2 separate regions of the Homo sapiens genome follow, and region 1 is linked to region 2. The links come from fine-mapping of genetic effects on plasma protein levels. A gene starts in region 2. The other region holds a variant in brackets. All regions are shown on one strand. Distances are from middle to middle.

What was found. A credible set is the group of variants that fine-mapping cannot tell apart. PIP is the posterior inclusion probability: the model's chance that the variant is causal. The UK Biobank Pharma Proteomics Project read protein levels with antibody pairs (Olink). The fine-mapping took linkage between variants from a reference panel, not from the people measured, so its PIPs are less certain.
Region 1: its variant is the best candidate, but not a certain one, in a credible set for the plasma level of the CD34 protein (UK Biobank, PIP 0.82).

The regions. Positions count from the first base shown.
Region 1 is chr1:207,899,313-207,902,211 of GRCh38, forward strand. CD34 (CD34 molecule) reads right to left here. Exons shown (of 8, transcript NM_001025109.2): 2 at 509-691. Among named protein-coding and RNA genes, the nearest start is that of CD34, 10 kb to the right of the region's middle. The variant T/C (reference allele first, on the strand shown) is at 716.
Region 2 is chr1:207,909,794-207,912,705 of GRCh38, forward strand. It overlaps CD34 (CD34 molecule), which reads right to left and starts at 1,332. Exons shown (of 8, transcript NM_001025109.2): 1 at 1,209-1,332. The coding sequence starts at 1,287. It overlaps LOC107985253 (a long non-coding RNA gene), which reads left to right and starts at 575. Exons shown (of 4, transcript XR_001738424.2): 1 at 575-764; 2 at 862-1,045.

The sequences.
Region 1 (2,899 bases), 10 kb before region 2:
AACACAGAAAAGGGAGTTTGGGGAGTTAACAGTTACTTCGTGTCCCATCCCTGACCAAACTCATTTCAAGCTGTTGGAACAAGAGCTAGAATCTAGAATGTATTAGAGGTGTCCTGAAACTGAAATAGATGCTGGTCTACCTTAGAGAAGCCAAAGACCCCCAGTTTGGACCTGTACCCACCTTCTTTCCTTTAGAAGAGATCGGAGATCTCTATTGAGTCTTCTGATCCTTATTTTATCACTAAGCTAGACTCAGCATGAGAGAAGGGGTATGGAGGCATTACTGATCAGGATCAGCTCCCAAGACATGGGCCTGAGAAAACTGTCACTGAAGGAAGAATTATCTAGAACTTACTTCAGGGCACCCTAAGCATGATACTCAAGTCATTAATACTAGGGACTTGTATAATTTCCTCTGTGGAGAGGGGAGCGGTCTGAAAACATCCTAAATGCTTTACCCAAGCATCACCAGCATCTCTCCGGGATCTGACACAAATGCTGTTTTTACCTGTGATGTTTGTTGTGGCCTCATTGCCATGTTGAGACACAGGGTGCAGGCTGGTACTTCCAAGGGTACTAGGTGTTGTAGTTTCTTGGTAGGATACATTTGTAGAAACATTTGAAAATGTTCCCTGGGTAGGTAACTCTGGGGTAGCAGTACCGTTGTTGTCAAGACTCATGAACCCAGAAGCTATAGGGAAACGAGGAGGAAGAA[T/C]CAGAACCTAAAGATATCAGCCTGGTGATATCACCTGATGCAATTTCCTGACTTCAGGTAGAATTCGTCTAGAACATTCCCTGCTGCCCCTTGTTGGCAGCAACAAGAACATACTCCTGGACAGTGGATTAATTTCCCACTACCAAATTTGCCCTGAGGACATAGGGAAGGAAAGATTTATATGCATACAAATGTCTCATACAGTATTATTTATAGGAGGGAAACGTGAACAACTAAATGAATTATGATAGGATAAGTGATATATGCACTTAATATACCATAATCATTATATAATCATATAAACAAACATTAGAAAGAAAAAAATTATAAAAACTGTAGCAACGTGGAACTATGAGGTGATGTTCATAGTATGTTTAGTTACATACTAAAATATAAAATTACACCTGCATAAATATTGCAAAGATCTAATGTGTGCAAAAGGTCATGCTTCTTTTTTCTTTTCACTGTATCCTCTTTTTTGGTCACTCTCCATCCAGTATACTAACTCTTGGAATAATCACTAGACTCACTGTCTCTATGCGATCCCCTTAAAAATCTATACTTCTCAGACTTCCCATTCCCATACTCCCCTCATCCTTTTGCTCATGGCCTTCAAACCCATTCGCCTTTCCTTTTCTTCTTTTAGCATGCTCTGACCTAGGAATTCAGCTAATGAACCAGGGAACACAAGGTCTGGTTTCTCATCAATGTAGTGGGAAGGTAGACAAGCTTTGTTCTGGCTCTTCCAATAACTAACCATGTAATTTAATGCATGTATGTATCTCAGCTCTCTTACCTCTTAAGTAAGGGTCTTTTCTGGCTACCTTACATGGATTGCTGGGATAAACAATGAGATAACAAATGCTAAGTTATTATAGTATTATAGTATAATGTTTTGGATCTCATTTTTCTCTGAAGATCTTCATGAGTGTCTTTGCACATCTCTTCTGTATATCCTGGGATACATACTTTTTTTTTTTTTTTTTTAAGACAGGGTCTTGCTCTGTCATCACAGCACCCAGGCTAGAATGCAGTGGTGAGATCATAGCTCACTGTAACCTTAAGCTCCTGGCCTCAAGTGATCCTCCTGTCTTGGCCTCCCAAAGCTCTGGGATTACAGATGTTACTCACCATTCCCAGTCAGTATCCTCATTAGACACAGGAAGGAGAAGCTTCTTGACTGAACCCTATGCCTCAAAGAGCCCACACCCTGTCCTGCTTCCTGTGAGGACCAATCAGGATGTACCCTCTCTTCTAGGTCATACTGTGGGGACCAGAAGTCCTAGCACTTCTTGATCAAATGGCACTTTGCTCACATCCACGATGGGCCGCTTCTCCCAGTCCATCCTGCTAAGGGGAACTGCAGCACAAGGGTGTACACCCCCAAGGCCCAGTGGTGGCCAAATGATGACTGCTTGCAGGGAGAAGAGTTAGTGCTTAGTGCTTAAGCCTGTGGGTGGGGTGTCCCAGGCACACATGCAATTGCCTTGCAATGTGAGCCAGAGTCATGGGTAGAAAGTAGATGAAGGGAAGTGGGCTGGGGCCAGGAGCCATCTCTTCCTGCTAAGCTGCACTGTGGCAGTGAATTCCAAGAATCTGAGCATCCCAAATTGAAACTTGGCCTTCCAGGTGATCACGAAGATATGTTTGTCAAGGTAAGAGGATAGAAGATATTTTATTAGTTAGTTGGCCTGACTTACAACCTTGAAATGTTTAGAAATATAGTATGTAGGCCTCTGTTGTACTCTTGCCTTGGGCCTTGTAAATGTTAAGGGTGAACTTGGTATCCAGAGTTCATAAAGGCAGTTGCATCTTCAAGGAAGAGCCTCTGAGGGTCCCAGGCCACCCTAAAGCTTGTCTCTAAATTTTCCTGATTGGGATCTAGATCTGTACTTTTCAGCGATTTCCAGGTAAACAGCAAGGTAGAATGACATCTCTTGTTTCCCTCAGGATCAAGAGGGAAGTTAGACTTTTGGCTTCACGGCCATCAACCTGGGGCCAAGAACGGTTTCCCTAAAGGTGATGACAAGGGTTTCACTCTCTCATATCTGCTTCCTTCCACAACCTGCTGCAAGCAGATTGCTATTAATGGTGACTGCAGCAATCGTGTCTTACTGTTATGTGTCAGGTAAGCAGTGGGGAGAAGGAATATCACTATCTCTGTCTTAGAGATGAAGAGCCTGA
Region 2 (2,912 bases):
CATCCAGGACTGCCAAACAGGGCAACCCAAAACTTCTCTCAGAGCTTCCTCCAGCCCAGGGGCAGCTGTCCCCAGCTGGGCGGACCCAAAGATGGACAACAGAGGAGACTGGGAACAAAGAGGTCTAGTCCAGGTCACTCTGCAGGGCCACAGTGGGTGGCCCTTAGGATGTAGTGAGAGTACAGAATTGGGAGCCCTAGAGTGCTGTAAGCAAAAGGGAGAGCAATGTACAAAGTTTCAAAAGTTTCAAACCTTCCAAGTGCAAAGAGATGAGGTGGAGAATGTCATTCCCCAAGGAAAGTAATCGAGTATAAATATTTACCGGGTGCCTATTTTTTTTTTAACCGAAGTGAGAGCAAGACCTTAAGAGTAAGGATATGTGTAGGTGAGTGGGGGCAGTGTTCTAACCCATCCACTAGCTTTAGAACTTGGAGCAGGGGCAGAGGAAGAAAACTCCAAAAGGTGACAAGTTTTGAAATTTGTGCAGGGGTGACGGTTTTTGGTAAGGCGAGCGAGGCTGGGCGCAGAGCAAATTCTGTCTACTTCTACCTCCTCCGCGGTGGGGTTGCTGAAGTGGGAATTCAAACTCAGCTTCCCAATCTTAAATGCAAGGTTTTTGTTTGGTTGGTTGTTTGGTTTTGTTTTTCCTTTTCACGGACTGTTCATTCCGAACACCCCTGGCCTGGGACCTGGAGCCTCATCCCTGATTCGCTTCCCTCGAATTCCTTAATGTCCACTTCTGGCTCTCCCAGTCCCTGTGCAAGGTGGGCACACCGGCCCCTTCCCAGCAATCCGCTCCGTGTCTATACTTTCTGAATCAACCAAGAGCCACAAAACTTTTCCTGCTTCTCTCCTCCCCAGTCTCCCGGTTCTGGCTGCAACTTCGCACTCCGCGCCTCTGGCAACCAGAAGAGACCCTGGCATCTCCAAAGCGCTTTATCTCAGTCCATTGGAACCAGTCGTGCTGACCGATTCACACCTCGGCTAACGCACACTCGCGGGGGTGATGGCCTTCCCTTCCCCTCCCACCCCCGTCAGCTCCCAGGTGAGGCGCTGGCCCCGGGGGGAAGCAGCTGTGGGCGGCAGTGCGTGGGTTGGGCAGGGGTCCCTTCCCTCCGTGAGACTCTGCTCTGCTGTTCAGCCTCCCAGAAAGCCTCCACCCTCCCCGCGGCGAAGCCAAGCGGCCGCGGCGCGCGGGCGGTACTCACGCAGCAAACTCAGCAAGCAAAGCGCGGTCCAGCCCCGCGGCATCCTGGGCCCTGCGCGCGCGCCCCTGCGGACCAGCATCCTTCCCGCGCGGCTCCTAGAGAGACGCACCGAGTGGAAGACACTACTCGGCTTGGCCAGGACGCGCTCTTCCCGCCCCCTCCGCCCGGGAGAGGGGTGGGGGATTCTTGCTTTTTTCCTCTCTTCTCCCCTCCCTTTTTAGTCTTGGCAAGGCAGCGCCTCTCCTTGGCTGCTACTAACTTGAGCTCCCCTGGTTGGTCCCAAAGGCGGAGGGCGTTAGGAGGGAGGCTGGGTTGCCGCCGTCGAGGCCAAAAAAGGTGGAGGTTTGTTCGGGCTCCAGATGCCTCGTTCAGCTTTCTGGAGAGGCCCCATCCCACTTCTTCAAGCTCCACTTCCACTTAACTTTTAACCCCTTTGTGGCAGCCTTGCCGGTGGCCAGGGCAGGGGCAAGTTTCCTCCGATTTTTTCCCCACTTTTCTTTCCTTGTGATTTTCCTTTATTTTTAAGTTGTAAGCCAGTAACAATCTTGCAAAAGGAATCTACTGTAAGGACCTCAGTTTAGAAGTGTGAGCATTTCGTTAATCAGGTAAAACTTAACCACAATGTGGCACATTTAGTGATAGCCTCACCAGATCCTGTGCTGTGTGTGAGTGAAGCGTCAGGAGTGAGCAGGTATACGTGACTATAAGTATTCATTTTGGCTGTCCAAACCATTCTTGGAGACTTTTTCTTTCTTTTCTTTTCTTTTTTTTTTCCTGCAAGACCTTTTTGTGTTATGTTAACTTTTTGCTAACTTGTGTTAACTTTTCCTGTGACCTTCCATATTTCCCCATTTAGTTCCCCATCACCATCATCCTAAAGAAAAAGGACTTCCCTGGATGCCTTCTCACCAGTTATCCCCTCTCCAGCCCTGGGTCTAAGCCACTAGGGATTTCACCTTGCTCTCCCATCAGAAAAAGGACTTTCTGTGACTCCATCCTCCACCACTTGATAGATCCTTGAGCTTCCTGTTCCTCACCAGTTCCTCTGGGTGTTGGTTGTACTGAATAGAAGAAACTCTGAGCCGGGTAGGCAGCCTAGTCTTGGGGACGTAGAGACGGGAGAAAGGAGAAGCCAGCCTGGGCAGATGATGGCACCAGGGGAGGATCAGATAAGGTATAACCTGGGAGAGGCTGCTCTGATATCCAGAGCAGAATCATGAAATTATAAATACTCAGTTCAGGCTCTTCCATGATGTCTGTACCACATAGCCTAAAGGGAAAAAAGAGAAGCCAGACCAGCACTCTGTGGTCCTTTCTGATTTCTCCGCAGACACTCTAGCATTATAAAAGTAGCTTTACCTTTATAGTCCATCTCAAACCTACTATGCGTTGGGGTTGCACAGGAGAAGGATCCAGGTCTAAAAACAAACCCAAAATCTCCTTATTCTGGTCTTGTTGCCTAGCATTCCTTTAAACAGGGAACAAAGTCTTTCATCACACAATAAGAGCAAAGGCCTGATATGCTAATTTGATTGAATACAACGGAATGGTATGAATCTGTTTCAAAGTACAAATGATGATTCAGAACTGATCACATAGTGATGGCAAGGGCCTGGGGACAGAAGGAGTGGCAAACATGCATTTTAAAATCAGTCATTGGTCCTTGGGACTCCCAATTAACAGGGAAAAGGAGTTAGTTCCAAC